Linked DNA regions of Homo sapiens. The protein of the gene in region 1 purifies or fractionates together with the protein of each later gene. This does not show direct contact. Each region holds a gene or a part of one and is shown on either strand. Other genes may lie near its edges. The genes, in order: H2AZ2, TRNT1, FKBP9, HK2 and XPNPEP1.

Region 1 (3,521 bases):
AGCTACAAAGGGGATATGCCATTTCAAAGCTTACCATCTATTTTGAAAGAATAGCCCCTCAAACAGCCAATCTTGTAAACTGATTTCTTTTTTTAACAGTAAAGAAATAATCTGTTTAAATGGTAAAAGCAAAATATATGAGAGAAAATTAGTTTTCTTAAGTCAGACCTTTAGTATTTCCTCCCGAGAGGCAAATAACATTTCTAATTTATTGTGTCACCTACTAGAAATACATGTGTACACATATACTCTATAATACCCCATATTTACTTAAAAGCTCATTACATTGGCACATACTTTGCCTTTTTCATGCAGAAATAGGTTTTTTTAAAGCGTACAGTTCAGTGGCATTAAGTACATTTATAGTGTGCAACCATCACTGCCTTCTGCCTCTAGAACTTTTTCATCTTCCCAAGTGGAAACTCTACCCATTCAACAATAACTCGGCCAGGCGCAGTGGCTCACGCCTGTAATCCCAGTACTTTGGGAGGATGAGACAGGCAGATCACTTGAGGTCAGGAGTTCAAGACCAGCCTGGCCAACATGCAGAAACCTTGTTGGTACTAAAAATACAAAAATTAGCAGGGCATGGTGGCGCGCACCTATACTACCAGCTACTTAGGAGGCTGAGGCAGGAGAATCACTTGAACCCAGGAGGCAGCTACCCCTGGCAACCACAAATCTGCTTTCTGACCATGAACTTTACTATTTTAGGGACCTCATAAGTAGAATCATACAGTATTTGTCTTTTTTGTAACTGGCTTATTTTCCTTAGCATAATGTCCTCAAGGCCCATTCATGTTGTAGCTTGTGTCAGAATTTCCTTTTTAAAGCTGAATACTATTCCATTATATGTATATCATTTTGTTCATCCATCATTGGACACTCAAGATTGTTTCTACCTTTTGGCTATTCTGAATAATGCTTCTGTGAACGTGGGTATACATGTATTTGTTTGAATCCTTGCTTTCAATTTTTAGGTGTATACCTAGAAGTGGAATTGCTAGACTATATGACAATTCTGTGTTTAATTTTTTGAGGTTTTTTTTTTTTTTCTTGGAACATGCTTTATTTTTCTGAGAGCTAAGTTCTAAATATTTCTGTGGAAGTAATATATGTTACATTGACATTGATAAAAATTGTGAAATATTTCATGTATGCATAAAAGTTATATTGACTTGCAAGATTCTTTAATCTGGAAATTGATAAATATGTTTGTTTTTAAAAATCTCATATTTTTCAGCCTGGCACTGTGGCTTATGCCTGTAATCCCAGCACTTTGGGAGGCCTAGGCGGGCGGATCACTTGAGGTCAGGAGTTCAAGACCAGCTTGGCCAACATAGTGAAACCCACCTCTACTAAAAATACAAAAATTAGCCATGTGTGGTGGTGTGCGCCTGTAATCTCAGCTACTCAGGAGGCTGAGGCAGGAGAATCGCTTGAGCCCAGGAGGTGGAGTTTGCAGTGAGTCAAGGTCGCACCACTGCACTCCAGCCTGGGCAACAGAGCTAGACTCCATCTCAAGAAAAAAGAAAAATATTTTAAATAAGTGTTTAAGGTTTGATTTCTTTGATAGAAATTATAAAAGGTGATAGAATCCCATGTATATTTACAAATGAGGAAGGGGATCACCTACATATTGTTAACTACCTAAAGTAAAACTAGAAAAAATTCTGTTTCCAGAATATTTTTGAAGTAGTATTTTCAACTCTTTTCATTCAAAAAAATTTTTTTTTGCATTTAGGCTGGAGGCAAAGCTGGAAAGGACAGTGGGAAGGCCAAGGCTAAGGCAGTATCTCGCTCACAGAGAGCTGGGCTACAGGTAATGAATCCATGCTGTCATTACATTATTATTTTCTTTACTGTTGTAATTTATGACCTATGTTTCATCAATTACAAAAATCTACTTGTATTACTACAGACTTTTTTTTTTTTTTTTTTTTTTTTTTTTTTTTTTTTTTGAGACAGAGTCTCACTCTGTCGTCAGGCTGGAGTGCAGTGGTGCAATCTCGGCTCACTGCAACCTCTGCCTCCTGGATTCAAGCGATTCTCCTGCCTCAGGCTCCCACATAGCTGGGACTGCAGGCGTGCGCCACCATACCCAGCTAGTTTTTGTATTTTTAGTAGAGACGGGATTTCACCATGTTGGCCAAGATGGTCTCAATCTCTTGACCTCGTGATCTGCCTGCCTCAGCCTCCCAGAGGGCTGGAATTACAGGCATGAGCCACCGCGCCTGGCTGAGAAACCCTTTTAATCAGGAAGGCTAAGCTGTAAACTGTTATCCTCTTGGCAGTGGTAAGCCATTGAGAGTTTGAGCCAGAGGACAACATTATCCAGATGATACCGAAAGAAGGGGGATGGGAACTTAAACTGATATGCACATTCTGTATTTTAGGTCTCCATGTATATTCCCAATTAGAATTTATTTTAAGGCATACTTAATTTGAAGTAGAAAATGGAAGGCCAATGGAGGTTTTTGCAGTGGTTTAGGAATAAAGTAACATACTTGAATGGGAAGGAGTAGAAAGCATGTGTGTGCAGAAAATAGGTGAAGCAGTATAAGGTTGAGAGAAAGTCACAGGTTTCTCTAAGGCTTAGAACCTAAGGAACAGAGGAGTTTGTAGTAGGGGCAAGTTATGAGTAAATTTAAATGGAATCATTTTGAAGTTCACTAAAACATCCATGTGAAAATGTCCAGAAGTTGGAAACATGAGTTCAGCTTTCTAATAGAGGTGATAGAATTAGGAATTTGAGATCATTTATGTAAAATGGATAGTTTATGTTATGGATGAGTTTCCTAACCTAAGAGAATGAGAAAGGAGCACAGGGACGTTGGTGGACCCCTGAAAAACTTTAAGAAAAGGCTGAGGAGTAGTCAGACTTGGTATGAGAACTCTGAAGTCTAAGATGAAATGTTTTTGAGGGCCTACTGTATGCCAGACAACATACTGGTTACTAAGGATACAAAGGAAAAGAAGACATAAATCTTGCCCTTAAGAAGCTTTTGGTCACTTAGAGATGAAGTATAAATGCAAAAAAAAGATTGCTTGTTTTTATTAAGGAAGTAAAATGTCACTGCTGGCCTTCAAAGGTCAAGTTAGGGTTAGGAAAAATGGGTGACAAGGAAGTAAGGGTTTCAGGATTTGTTTTTTCAATTCAGTCTTTGGAAAGAGACTGTCTAGACTGTAACTGGAAGCAGTTTTCATAGATTGTGAAGTTTTCAGTAAAGTCTGTAGAAGGAAAGGAACCAGCGGAAAGGAAGTAATTGTAGCTGTTGAAATAATGGAGCAGTGAAGGGTTGAGGGAGGCCTGTAAGAAAGGCACAGACTGGCGGGGCACAGTGGCTCATGCCTGTAATCCCAGCACTTTGGGAGGCTAAGGTGGACAGATCACTCAAAACCCTGTCTCTACTAAAAATACAAAACAGCCAGGCGTCCTGGCGCGCCTATAATCCCACCTACTCAGGAGGCTGAGGCAGGAGAATCGCCTGAACCCGGGAGGCGGAGGTTGCAGTGAGCCA
Region 2 (3,521 bases), on another chromosome or scaffold:
TTCCATGAGAACTGAAGGAAGAAGGAAATAGGAGTTGCCTCCATTGTGCACGTTGCAAAACCTGTCTGGAAGGAGCATAGGAAATGGCTTTAGCTAAGTGCCAGTAGCTTCTTGCTGTTGCCACAGTTTCATTAGTGTTGATTCTCAATGTTGTCTGCTGATGTTGCTAAAGCAGCCACACAGTAGCATTACAAAGCCTGTGGGAATTTTAATAGCACCTTCATAAATATATTTAGTAGTATATGTAGAAATATGACCTATACAGCACTGGCTATCTATTAGATTCACCTGGGGAGCTTTTAAAGCACACATGCTCGGGTTCTACCTGCAGCCTACTGAATTAGAATCTCTGGGTGGGATGACCATCTATATTTTTAATAAAAGCTCCACAAGTTAATTCTGATGCACAGAAGATAGACGAACCATTACTTTAACATGACTCACCTTGTATTAGCTTATTCTCAAAGCTACTTTCCCATTCTTGAAATTGGATGATGGCTTTTTAGGTACGTGCCAGAGATAAATGGCCCAGAATATGTTGATTCTTTTAGATTGTTTTAGGCAGACTTTAAGTAGAGGGCTTAAATGCATGTTTGGTTTTGCCGATGCTTCACTATCTTTTTTAATTGGAGAGAGTGAAAATTGCTAAAAATTGCTGTCCAATAGAAATTTATGAGCCCATATGTAATATAAACTTTTTTACTAACCACATTAAAAAGATAGAAATGGTGAAATAAATTTTAATAATTATTTTTGGTTCATCTAATTTAATCCAATATATCTAAGATACTATCAGTATGAATTTTGTATAAAAATTGTTAATGAGGCCGGGCACAGTGTCTCCCACCTGTAATCCTAGCACTTTGGGAGGCTGGACATGGTGGCTCATACCTGTAATCCCAGCACTTTTGAGTGGCTGAGGTGGGTGGATCACTTGAGCCCAGGAGTTTGAGACCAGCCTGGGCAACACGGTGAAACCCCATCTCTACTAAAAATATGAAAAATAGGCAAGCATACTGATATGTGTCTGTAGTCCCTGCTACTTGGGAGGCTGAGGTGGGAGGATCACTGAAGCCTGGGAGGGGGGCTTGCGGTAAGCCGAGATTGTGCCACTACACTCCAGCCTGGGCGACACAGACCGTGTCTTTAAAAAAAAAAAAAAATTAATGAGATATTTTATATTCTTACTTGGAAGTCTTTGAAGTCTGGCATGCATTTAATACAGCACATCTGAATTCAGACTTACCACATTTTAAGTGCTCAGTAAGTACAAGTGGCTGCTGTTTGAATAGTGCAGATTTTGAAGCTGTGATTTTGGGTTGAGTTGAAGCTTTTTTCTTTCTGTGTATGCCCTTCACAGCCCCCAATTTTTCAACTTCAATTGCAAGAGGCCTCTTGGAAGAAGGAGTAGTAATTAACTCTTGATGGCCTAACTCAGGTCATTCTGCATTTTTTGGAAATAAGGTTCTAAATATTGATTACTATAGTTTCTTGAACATCATTTTAACAATTGTGTTTAACGTTCTAAACCTGAAACTGGCTAGCCATATGTAGAAAGCTGAAACTGGATCCCTTCCTTACACCTTATACAAAAATCAATTCAAGATGGATTAAAGATTTAAACGTTAGACCTAAAACCATAAAAACCCTAGAAGAAAACCTAGGCATTACCATTCAGGACATAGGCGTGGGCGAGGACTTCATGTCCAAAACACCAAAAGCAATGGCAACAAAAGCCAGAATTGACAAATGGGATCTAATTAAACTAAAGAGCTTCTGCACAGCAAAAGAAACTACCATCAGAGTGAACAGGCAACCCACAACATGGGAGAAAATTTTCGCAACCTACTCATCTGACAAAGGGCTAATATCCAGAATCTACAATGAACTCAAACAAATTTACAAGAAAAAAACAAACAACCCCATCAAAAAGTGGGCGAAGGACATGAACAGACACTTCTCAAAAGAAGACATTTATGCAGCCAAAAAACACATGAAAAAATGCTCATCATCACTGGCCATCAGAGAAATGCAAATCAAAACCACTATGAGATATCATCTCACACCAGTTAGAATGGCAATCATTAAAAAGTCAGGAAACAACAGGTGCTGGAGAGGATGTGGAGAAATAGGAACACTTTTACACTGTTGGTGGGACTGTAAACTAGTTCAACCATTGTGGAAGTCAGTGTGGCGATTCCTCAGGGATCTAGAACTAGAAATACCATTTGACCCAGCCATCCCATTACTGGGTATATACCCAAAGGACTATAAATCATGCTGCTATAAAGAGACATGCACACGTATGTTTATTGCGGCACTATTCACAATAGCAAAGACTTGGAACCAACCCAAATGTCCAACAATGATAGACTGGATTAAGAAAATGTGGCACATATACACCATGGAATACTATGCAGCCATAAAAAATGATGAGTTCATGTCCTTTGTAGGGACATGGATGAAACTGGAAACCATCATTCTCAGTAAACTATCGCAAGAACAAAAAACCAAACACCGCATATTCTCACTCATAGGTGGGAATTGAACAATGAGATCACATGGACACAGGAAGGGGAATATCACACTCTGGGGACTGTGGTGGGGTCGGGGGAGGGGGGAGGGATAGCATTGGGAGATATACCTAATGCTAGATGACACGTTAGTGGGTGCAGCGCACCAGCATGGCACATGTATACATATGTAACTAACCTGCACAATGTGCACATGTACCCTAAAACTTAGAGTATAATAAAAAAAAAAAAATTAAAAAAATAAAAAAAAACATATACCTATTGAAGGAAAAAAAAAAAAACACAAAAAAAAAACACTGGATTTTCTCCACCCTGAGAAATGAGGTCCTAAGGAAGTTAGAGCCTAAATGGTGTGGTAAGGTAGAGGTGGTGATTGCTTCCAGAGTCCTGTCCTTGAAGGACTGGCAAATGAGAACATGGATATATTCTAAAGTTGACTTTTTCTAGGCTACTGGAGAAGTGGCAAGAATGGAATCTTTTAGTGCAATGATCAACAAGTTAGAATGTCAAAGACTTGGGTGCCCTGGTAAAATGTAATGTTCTGTATAAAATCAAAATGTACAAAAACACACAGCCTTTCTGATGGCTGCTATATAGTGATACTTGGAGTTTAAATCCTGTACCAATTTTCAAATCTTAATAGCTGCTTTGCCATGTGTAAAATTAGTTTTCAGTATGCAAGAATATGAGAGACTAGAATAGTGTATTATTGTCATATCATAAGGGTTTTATAATTTGTCAGGTTATTTTATGTATCTTTTTGCTTCAGTACAATCATATGCTAGTGGCATAGAAGATTATTTCCCAGCTAGCTGTGGTAGCTCATGCCTATAATCTCCCAGCACTTTGGGAGGCCGAGATGGGAGAATTGCTTGAGCCCAGGAGTTAGAGACCAGCCTGAGCAACATAGTGAAATCCCATCTGTACAAAAATAATAATAATAAATTTAGCCAGTTACAGTGATGCACACCTGTAGTCCCAGCTACT
Region 3 (2,516 bases), about 12 Mb from region 1:
ATTGGCTACCTGAATAATAAGGGCTCTTGGAGTCATTTAGCACAAGGGTTTTTCACCTGCATTTAGAGAAAAAAAACAAAACACAGATCATAGGTCATATAGCTGCCAAAAAGATCTTGTCTGTGTTGGTAGCCCAGACTCAAGTTCCAGCCCTGTCACCCCCAGACTGCTCTGTTTCTGGCCCCAGGCCTGGCGTTCATGGCGGCTGAACTCATGGTCTTTCCTGTCCCCTTCTTTTCCAGTTCTCAGAGTACATTCACGCCCAGGTGGCATCTGGCAAAGGGAAACTCGCTCCTGGCTTTGATGCTGAGCTGATTGTGAAGAATATGTTCACCAACCAGGACCGGAATGGAGATGGGAAGGTCACAGCCGAGGAATTTAAACTCAAAGACCAGGAAGCCAAACACGATGAACTCTAAACCTGGCATGAACCAGATGGTGCCAGGGAGTACGTGACACCAAGCCACCTGTGTGGCAAGACGTGCAGTGAGGGTGCAAGGGTCTCTCAGAAGTTGCATCATTAGCCAGTAGTAGGTGGGTCACATAGTACCTGGTGTACACATCGGGGTGGGTTGATATATGGGGTGAGAAGTTTGGGCTGATCGCCAGTGATAGTAAACAAAATCTGTGCAGAGGGCCTTAGCATGGGATGTGTCCAGTATTGAAAAGGCTGCACTGCCAACCATGATTTGTGAGCCTTCTGGGAAATTTTGTTATTAAAGGAATATATAGTGTCAGACGGAAGTTATAATCATCTTGGAGGAACCATAAGAAAAGGTGTCCAGGGTATCTATATAAAGAGGGTTAAATTTTTTTTTAACTTGCTGGTTAAAACATTTTAGAAATATTCTAGAGATGGGCAGGAGAGTCAAAGGGCTTGCTTGCCCCAGCAGAGTTCCCAGCAGACAGCCATGGCTCTTCCCAGCAGCCTGTGCAAATTCTGATGATGGCCCCACCCCCGCACACGCACACGCACATCATGCTTTTCCAGCTCATCACACCCCGCCCCACTATGGGCCTACCATTAATAGTGTATAACTTGGAGGTTAAAAGAGCCTTTTGGACAGAAAACTGGGCCAGGAAAAGGCATCTCAGACCACAAATAGAGAATTTGATTCCTCATTTGCCACATAAGTCATCTGCTTAGCTTTTCCTTTCCTTTTTTTTTTTTTTTTTTTTTCTGGAGGCAGAGTCTCCCTTTGTCGCCAGGCTGGAGTGCAGTGGTGCCATCTCGGCTCACTGCAGCACTGTCTCGGCTCACTGCAGCCTCCGCCTCCCGTATTCAAGCGATTCTCCTGTCTCAGCCTCCTGAGTAGCTGGGACTACAGGTGTGCACCACCACGCCCGGCTAATTTTTGTATTTTTAGTAGAGACGGGGTTTCACTGTGTTGGCCAGGATGGTCTCAATCTCGACCTCGTGATCCGCCCACCTTGGCCTCCCAAAGTGTTGGGATTACAGGCGTGACTCACCATGCCCAGCCACTTAGTTTTTTCTTATTCCCACCTTTCTATCCCATAGAACACTCTTTTTTATCTTCCCTGAACCATATTGATGAGATAAATAGGGCTGGGGGCTGGGCCCCGCTGGTCACTCAACAGAGTATTTCCCTTGGCCGAGATGGAAGTTTTGTCCCAATAGATGAGCTGCTGAGCATCAACAAGGTGACATTTTTCTGCTGCCCATTTGTGTCCTGGAGACGGTGGTACCCTGAAGGCAGAGGCCAGCTGCCGCAAGACAGCAATGACAGTCCACCTGCCGACCTGATTCCTGCATCATGGAATAACCACATGGCTACCTTCTATCCTCTGTTCCCAAATGGTGGTGGCACTTATCCTGAAGTCGTCAATGATTTCCCTTTGAAACTACTTTATTTTACTAATTTAAACTATTTTGTACTGATGTAGCCCTGAGGTAGTTCATGAAAATGCTGTGCACTCATTCCATGGAATAAATGTTGGAAAGCTGATCTTTTCTGATATAAAATGTTGAATGATATTATCTGGTTTTCTGATATTTTATTGGAAGGCTGAAGACCTATGAGAATGCACCATGCAGTCAGAATCCCCTTGATGAAAACAGCAGGACTTCACTGCATTTACTGAGGGAGCGCACTCTACTTATAGGGAGTGTCAGTCAGGGTCCTGGCCCTCCTCTGGGACTCCTGAAGAGAAGCTAAGGAAAGGACTGTTTAGAGGGGTGTGGGCGAGGCTGGGGGAACTGAGGCTGTTGAGTGCCAGTGACAGCAGTGTTGGCCACCGCAGGAGGCTGCTACCACCAGGGCCTGAGAGCTCAAGAGGAGGCAGTGGGAGCAGCACAGGAAGGGCTACCTGGAGGCGTAACAGAGGGATGCAGCCAGCTGCATCTGACAGTGCGGCTGACACTGCAGCAGAGCGAGGGACAAACGCCCCATCCCCTCTGTGCCCCCATTCTCTGATGCCTGCCACTGGCTCCCATTAGTGGAACCATGTTGGAAGCCAGAGGGTAAGAGGAGCTCAGAGACTGGAGTTCTCAGAAG
Region 4 (3,521 bases), on another chromosome or scaffold:
ACTTGGGAGGGTCTCACCAAAGAGGTGACATTTAAGCACAGACCTGAATGGAATGAGAGGGTCAGCCATGGTGTATGATATATATTTTATATACCTGTAAATCTCCCATGCAATTGTCTGAAAGGAGAATATTGGGGTTCACCTGTGAACTGGGCATCTGCTTCTTCCCTCTCAGGAGTTTGACCTGGATGTGGTTGCTGTGGTGAACGACACAGTCGGAACTATGATGACCTGTGGCTTTGAAGACCCTCACTGTGAAGTTGGCCTCATTGTTGGTAAGGACCCAGACTGTCCTTTCCACATGGGGATGCACAGCCTTGGGTGTGGAGGGGTTGGTGCTGAGTGAGGCCCTGGTATCCTGTGATTGGCAGGCACGGGCAGCAATGCCTGCTACATGGAGGAGATGCGCAACGTGGAACTGGTGGAAGGAGAAGAGGGGCGGATGTGTGTGAACATGGAATGGGGGGCCTTCGGGGACAATGGATGCCTAGATGACTTCCGCACAGAATTTGATGTGGCTGTGGATGAGCTTTCACTCAACCCCGGCAAGCAGAGGTAGGCACCCAACTGGGGCCCTGTTAAGTGTATCCCAGGACTGGATGGCAACAAGTGATCAGAGCTTCCACAATGGCATCTCCCAGGACGCCGGTTCTCGTGAGATGTTAATAAAGGAGGTTTTCTTGGAAAGGGTTTCTTGTCGAATGCACCTGGAAAGTTCTGAGTTAGTAAATGTAAGAAGCATCTCCCACCCAAAAGCCTAGGAGAACAGGTGGGAGAATACTAGACCCTAGGTCTGGCACTCTAAGGAGAAACAAGTAGAAAGTTGAAGCACCTGCTGCTGACAGGCTGAAGAGCATCTCTTGGGTGATGCAGACAGGAGCAAATCCTCTCCCTCCTCCATCTTCCAGCGCCGAGCACCACCTACTGTCAGAATTGAGCAAGGGGCCAGCCCCAGTGTCACAAGGTCCTGTGCATGGTAGGGGAGCGGGGTCTGAGCTAAGAGACAATAGCTTAAGATCTAACACACTTCTCATTAAGATGTTGTCTGTAGTGTTTCCTAACTAGATTAATCAAACACCCTAGTCCTGCAGAATACGCTTTGCAAAACATGTGTCTAGAATAGAAGTTACAGACTAAAATGCCTCTAGGGGCCAGGCAGGCAACATTAATGAAGGAAGCAGGCTGGGTCAAGATAAGATGGGGTGGTGATGGGCTATTGGTTGAAACTAGGGACCTCGTTTTTTTTTCAAGGCAGGATTCAGGACCAAAAGACCCTCAAGCCACTGCATAATAACGTTTAGTTCCAGTGGCCAGGATGGGGGCCCTACAGCTGGCAGTAGTTACTTGAGTAATGATGGTTAGGTCCAAGAGAATGTATACTGAATGCCTAGTGAGGTTAAAGATTAAGACTCAGCATTCTCCCCTGCTCCGAGAAGTCCAGTGGGGTTATGGTGTGTTCCTTCTCGAGTTGCTTCTTGAAATTTCGAAATAAGCCTTGGAAAGGAAATGAGTTCCTTTCCCTGTGGGTTCCTTTCCAAGGCTTATTTCCCCAGGAGCCCCACGGGCCTCGGGCACTGTGGTCAGTGTTGCTGAAGGTTGTGAATTAGCATGCAAAGACACCAGGGATCCTGCCCAAGTGAATCAAGTAGCAATTCCTTTCCCATCAGGGGAGTCTGCCTGTCTGCCACTGCTGATGCACTGGGGGTGACTAAGCTGGCCTGTCCTGTCTCAACACATCCCTCCACCTTCCTACTTAACCTCCATGAATGTTACTTGCATTGCAGGTTCGAGAAAATGATCAGTGGAATGTACCTGGGTGAGATTGTCCGTAACATTCTCATCGATTTCACCAAGCGTGGACTACTCTTCCGAGGCCGCATCTCAGAGCGGCTCAAGACAAGGGGCATCTTTGAAACCAAGTTCTTGTCTCAGATTGAGAGGTGAGAGCTTAGGGCTCAGGGTAGCAGGGGGGCCATGTCCTTTTTTCTCACTGGCAGACAAACTGAAGGATTTCCATAACTCAGGGCATGACTCATACAAAAGTCAGTTTAGTGGCAAACACATTCATGTCTATAGTGTTTACTAAAAGCACATTATGGGCAGTTGTCATTTTAAGGGCAAACAGAGCATTCTCATGAAAGTTTGTGCTAAGCCTGGCCTGAGGTCATGCAAAGTGATATTGTTGGGTTTTAGACCATGTATCAAAGGTAGAAAGATACCTGCTCATAGCATGTAAATTGAAACGCACAGAGGAAGATAACCTATTAAAGCATCCACACTTGGCTTGAAAGCCCTTCCTAACTGCTGGCTGCAGTAATCAGGCAGCCAGGATTGAGTAAAGGTTGGAACGTCAGGCAATGCAGACACATGCCACACAGTGGCTCATTAGAGCAAAGCCTCCCTCCTACAGTCAAATGGTGGAAAATCTCCAAATTAGAACAGTGAATTTCAGAGCCCTTTAAAAATTAATGCTGTGCCATTACTCTCAGGGCAGAGAAGAACAGGAACTAGACAACTGATGTGAGTAGACCCCTCGGGCATCTGCACCAGTGAATAGAAAGATATATTCTAGCTTATAGGTCTGTTATGTTCAGCGAGGTGATTCCAGGCTTCTAAAATAGCTTTCTTTATATAGGAGGGTTTATTTTCTTTCTATAACTTTATTTACACTTCCTTCGTAAATAGCATATAAATACAGTTCAGACCACCCAGAGCAGCAGAGCAGAAATAAAGCACGAGTCTAATGCTGCTTGGTTAGTTCCTGCCCTGCAAACCCATGAACAGCAGCGAGAAAATGGACATGAAAGAGCTTTGTAACTGACCACTGTGATAAACAGTGAATTTGCTTTGTTTTGAGTATCTACTTTGTAGTAGTAATGGTCTATCTGGAGTAGGGAGAGTAGAATGAGGAGCTGTTTGTATTCCTGTCACCGTCAGGAAGAGTCAATGCAGTGCAGTAGGTTGAGCAGTGGTCTGAATTTAGGAATGGGAACCACCTCGAGGGGCCAGCTCCTGGAGAGCTAGACCCCCACAGAGCCTCCCCTGTAAGGACTCAGGCCCTGGTGTGGTAGGCTACCAGCCTTCTTGGTGCATGACTGAACACTTGCTGTCTCCCTCCCACCCCAGTGACTGCCTGGCCCTGCTGCAAGTCCGAGCCATCCTGCAACACTTAGGGCTTGAGAGCACCTGTGACGACAGCATCATTGTTAAGGAGGTGTGCACTGTGGTGGCCCGGCGGGCAGCCCAGCTCTGTGGCGCAGGCATGGCCGCTGTGGTGGACAGGATACGAGAAAACCGTGGGCTGGACGCTCTCAAAGTGACAGTGGGTGTGGATGGGACCCTCTACAAGCTACATCCTCAGTGAGTGCCTGATCCCAGCCCCCCCTGCCTACCTTCTTTCTGTCTTTGTTCTTTCCCTTTTCTTTCTCTCTTTCCTTTGTTACTTTATAGTGAATTATCAGCCATTCCAAATAGTGTATATAATACATGGATTATAGTTTAAAGATTCATAATCAGAAGTA
Region 5 (3,521 bases), on another chromosome or scaffold:
CATTAAGAATGATGTTAGCTGTAGGTTTTGTAATAACTTTTGTCAGGTTGAGGAATTTTTCTTCTAGTTTGCTGAGTACTTTTAACTTGAAGGGGCATTGGATTTTGTCGTGCTTTTTCTGCGTTTGTTGAGAAGACCATGTAGATTTTGTTCTTTATTCTATTGATATGGCCTGTTATAATAATTGATTTTTCATATATTGAGCCAACCTTGTATTCCTGGGATAAGACCCACTTGGCGATGATGATCCTTTTTATATTGTTCTAGATTCCGTTTGCTGGTATTTTGTTGAGGATATTTGTATTTATATTTTAGAAGACATATTGGGGTGTCTTACTTTTTTATGAAAGAATAATATGTTTACTCTCGTTAAGAACATCCCATTCTGTCCAGTAAAACTAAAGTCACAGCCATATGAAAGCAGGCCTAGAGTCATTGGTAAAGCTGCCTGGTTATCTGGTTCTTACCGTGTGGTAGACTGAGCTAATGTGTCCCTCTCTGTCTTTACCAACATGTAAAAATGCGGTTAAATTATAACTTAATTGAGTTCATAGCTGAGTAAAATTCAAAACCTTTTCTATGGCCCCACAGTAGGCCCCCTGGTGCCTCAATGATGTTGTCTCTGAACCACTTACCTCCCCATCCCCTGATACAATCACACTGCGCTGACCTTCTTGCTTTTCCTCAGGTAAACTAGACATACTCCTGCCTCATGGCCTTTGCACTTGCTGTTGTCCTGGAACATTGTTCCCCTAGCCGTTCACATGGCTTGCTTCCTCACTCTTTTTAGGTCTGTGTTAAAATGTTGTCTGTTATAATAGAGGCTGTCCCTGGCTACCCCATATGAAATAATCCTTCCCCTTACCTCCTTGATGCTTTCTTCCCCTTGCTGTGCTTTACTTTTTTTCACAAAACACGTTCTTATTACTTGACGTATTGTGTACTTGTTTTGTGTCTGTTGCCTTCTCTTCCCTGTCTTCTGCCCATCCCCCTGCCTTGCCCCATCTTAATTTGTTAAAGTCAGAGATCTTGTCTGTTTTGTTCACTGTTGTGTCCAGAATAGGGCCTGGATTATGGAAGATTTTTCAATAAATATTTGTTGACTGAATGAACTTGAAAGAAAGAGAAATCCTCAAGTGCCAAAAATGTAGAGGGAACCTAACGCCTGAGTGGTATGCTAGTAACCTGAGCCTGGGAAAGTTACCAGATGCAGATATAGACCTTCATGCCTGGTGTCCAGGGCATTAGACTATCCCCATATGGGAACAAGAAGTTTGTGTGTAAATCTTCTAGCTAATAAATTAATGTGAAAGTCTTAGAAGCAAACAATAACAGAACTGCTTGTACAAACCAGGACCCATCACATTCTCATAGATAAATAGCCTCTATTGAAGATAAGCTCTTAATAAAAGATCACAAAACGCAGAAGGAATGAACCACCAAGAGGGAGAGGCAGCAGACCTAGCAAACATGAGGGTTAGTCTCCCAAGATCTATTTGAAAGTATGGGAGAAATTATAAAATAAGGGCCTACAGTAATGAAGGCACAAAGAGAAGGCATAGAAACCAGAGTGCAAGAATAGGACACCATAAAGAAAGAACGGGCAGATGTGAAAAAGAACCAAATAGAACTTGTGTAAGGAAAAAACATTGAAAATAAGTCTTCTTAGTCTAGTTAAATAGGAGGTGTGAGAATTTATGAACTAGAAGCTGCAACTGAGAAGGTTAACCTGCCATGGGGATGTTTTACACCTGCAAGTTTTACATCAAACTTTTATTTATTCTGCCACTGATAATGGGGGTGAAAGTTCTTCTGACTCATGTTAGAGAACTGCTAAGTTAAGCGATGCCTCCTCTAACTGAGCCTTGCCACGTTTATTGTGGTCAAAGTCTGCAACTTCCTGTTCTTTCTCTCCTTAAGGGTGAATCACCAGGATTTTCAACTGAGAAATTTAAGAATAATTGAACCTAACGAGGTGACACACTCAGGAGACACAGGTGTGGAAACAGGTAATAATTTTGTCTGGAAATTAGATGGAACATCTGTAAAGGATTTTAGATCTCCACCCCAACCCCAGGTTGGGTGAGAAGAAGAGGGTAAGGAATTAGTAACAGATCATGACTGGGGGTTAGTATCTGGAAGTTAAAAACCATTTTATTTTTTGGCTTCCTAAGTGGTTGGTTACTGTTTCTATATATTTACCATTTTTTTTTTTTTTTTTTGAGACGGAGTCTCGCCCTTGGTCACCCAGCCTGGAGTGCAATGGCGTGATCTCGGCTCACTGCAACCTCCGTCTCCCGGGTTCAAGCGATTCTCCTGCCTCAGCCTCCGGAGTAGCTGGGATTACAGGCGCCCGACACCACGCCCAGCTAATTTTGTATTTTTAGTAGAGATGGGGTTTCTCCATGTTGGCCAGGCTGGTCTTGAACTCCCGACCTCAGGTGATCTGCCCGCCTTGGCCTCCCAAAGTGCTGGGATTACAGGCATGAGCCACTGCGCCTGGCCATTACCATTTTTTTTTAAGGTAGTAAGTTAGAGAATTACAACTTTTTTTTTGTTGTTTGTTTTTTTCGTTTTCCATTTTTGTCAGAGTGGTGGTGGTGGAGAAGGAGATAGGTTATTATGGAAAATGTTCTCTATTTCTCTAATATAGTCCTTCATTATCTTAGAAATTAGCTTTCAATTTTGATCATAAGATTGCAAAATGAGAAAAGCTTGTAATATATTATTGTCCTTTATAAATTGAGTGTGCATTTAGGAAAGTCTTTTTGGGAAATATTTCTTGGCTGTCCCTTCTCCCCAGAACTGGTTAATTGTCTGATGGGTTGCCAGAAACCTGAATTCTGAAAAGTGGTGTATTACTGTATTTCTATCCCAGTAAGCCAGTACTGCTCTAACGACTACTAAGGAGAACCATGTGTTTTTTTTTTTTTTAGCTGACTGAAAAATTGATCTCTTGAAGTACATAAGAAACCATGCCCGTCTAATCTCTGTTTGGAAGATCAGTGCTATAATTGCATGCAATTTTAGATCCTTTTTCTTTAAAAAATATAGATGTATCCAACACATTTTGGACCATATTAGGAGGTAGCAGAGGAAGGAGGAAAAAGAGAAAGTAAAGAAAGGAAAAAAGTGATGGAATCATTAAACTTAGAGTTGGAAGATAACTTCTTTTTCTTTTTGTAATGTATGAGGAAATAGAGGTTAGGTAGCTTCAGTTGCCTGAGGTTGTAGATCCCAGCTGGAAACTGGAGCTCACTTGTTTTGCTTCTGTTGGTCTTAGAACACTTTAAGGCTCTATTATGTCCCCCAGCTAATATGGTGTAATAGAGCATGGACTTGGGAATTGCATAGACCTTGAGTCCCGGTTCCTGATGAACCAGCTGACTTTGGGCAAGTACTTAACTCCTTTTAACTCCTGTTCCTTTATGTGTAAAATGAGAATAGTGAAACCTCCCTTGGAGGATTGTTGTGAGAATTAGCCACTAATGTATGTAAAGCCCTTAGCGTTCCCTCAGCTG

Evidence for each region.
Region 2: the proteins of H2AZ2 (region 1) and TRNT1 fractionate together in Homo sapiens (co-fractionation; one large-scale study listed by BioGRID). This does not show direct contact.
Region 3: the proteins of H2AZ2 (region 1) and FKBP9 fractionate together in Homo sapiens (co-fractionation; one large-scale study listed by BioGRID). This does not show direct contact.
Region 4: the proteins of H2AZ2 (region 1) and HK2 fractionate together in Homo sapiens (co-fractionation; one large-scale study listed by BioGRID). This does not show direct contact.
Region 5: the proteins of H2AZ2 (region 1) and XPNPEP1 fractionate together in Homo sapiens (co-fractionation; one large-scale study listed by BioGRID). This does not show direct contact.

Annotation. Positions count from the first base shown.
Region 1 is NC_000007.14:44,841,578-44,845,098, reverse strand, and holds part of H2AZ2 (histone H2A.V), read left to right. Parts: intron 1-1,744; coding exon 1,745-1,822; intron 1,823-3,521. UniProt on the Homo sapiens protein: Variant histone H2A which replaces conventional H2A in a subset of nucleosomes. Nucleosomes wrap and compact DNA into chromatin, limiting DNA accessibility to the cellular machineries which require DNA as a template.
Region 2 is NC_000003.12:3,129,930-3,133,450, forward strand, and holds part of TRNT1 (CCA tRNA nucleotidyltransferase 1, mitochondrial), read left to right. Parts: exon of another isoform or gene 1-750; intron 751-3,521. UniProt on the Homo sapiens protein: Nucleotidyltransferase that catalyzes the addition and repair of the essential 3'-terminal CCA sequence in tRNAs, which is necessary for the attachment of amino acids to the 3' terminus of tRNA molecules, using CTP and ATP as substrates. tRNA 3'-terminal CCA addition is required both for tRNA processing and repair.
Region 3 is NC_000007.14:33,004,933-33,007,448, forward strand, and holds the end of FKBP9 (peptidyl-prolyl cis-trans isomerase FKBP9 isoform 1 precursor), read left to right. Parts: intron 1-242; coding exon 243-419; 3' UTR 420-1,996; downstream 1,997-2,516. UniProt on the Homo sapiens protein: PPIases accelerate the folding of proteins during protein synthesis.
Region 4 is NC_000002.12:74,886,119-74,889,639, forward strand, and holds part of HK2 (hexokinase-2), read left to right. Parts: intron 1-175; coding exon 176-275; intron 276-371; coding exon 372-555; intron 556-1,784; coding exon 1,785-1,940; intron 1,941-3,126; coding exon 3,127-3,360; intron 3,361-3,521. UniProt on the Homo sapiens protein: Catalyzes the phosphorylation of hexose, such as D-glucose and D-fructose, to hexose 6-phosphate (D-glucose 6-phosphate and D-fructose 6-phosphate, respectively).
Region 5 is NC_000010.11:109,913,499-109,917,019, reverse strand, and holds part of XPNPEP1 (xaa-Pro aminopeptidase 1), read left to right. Parts: intron 1-1,920; coding exon 1,921-2,009; intron 2,010-3,521. UniProt on the Homo sapiens protein: Metalloaminopeptidase that catalyzes the removal of a penultimate prolyl residue from the N-termini of peptides, such as Arg-Pro-Pro. Contributes to the degradation of bradykinin.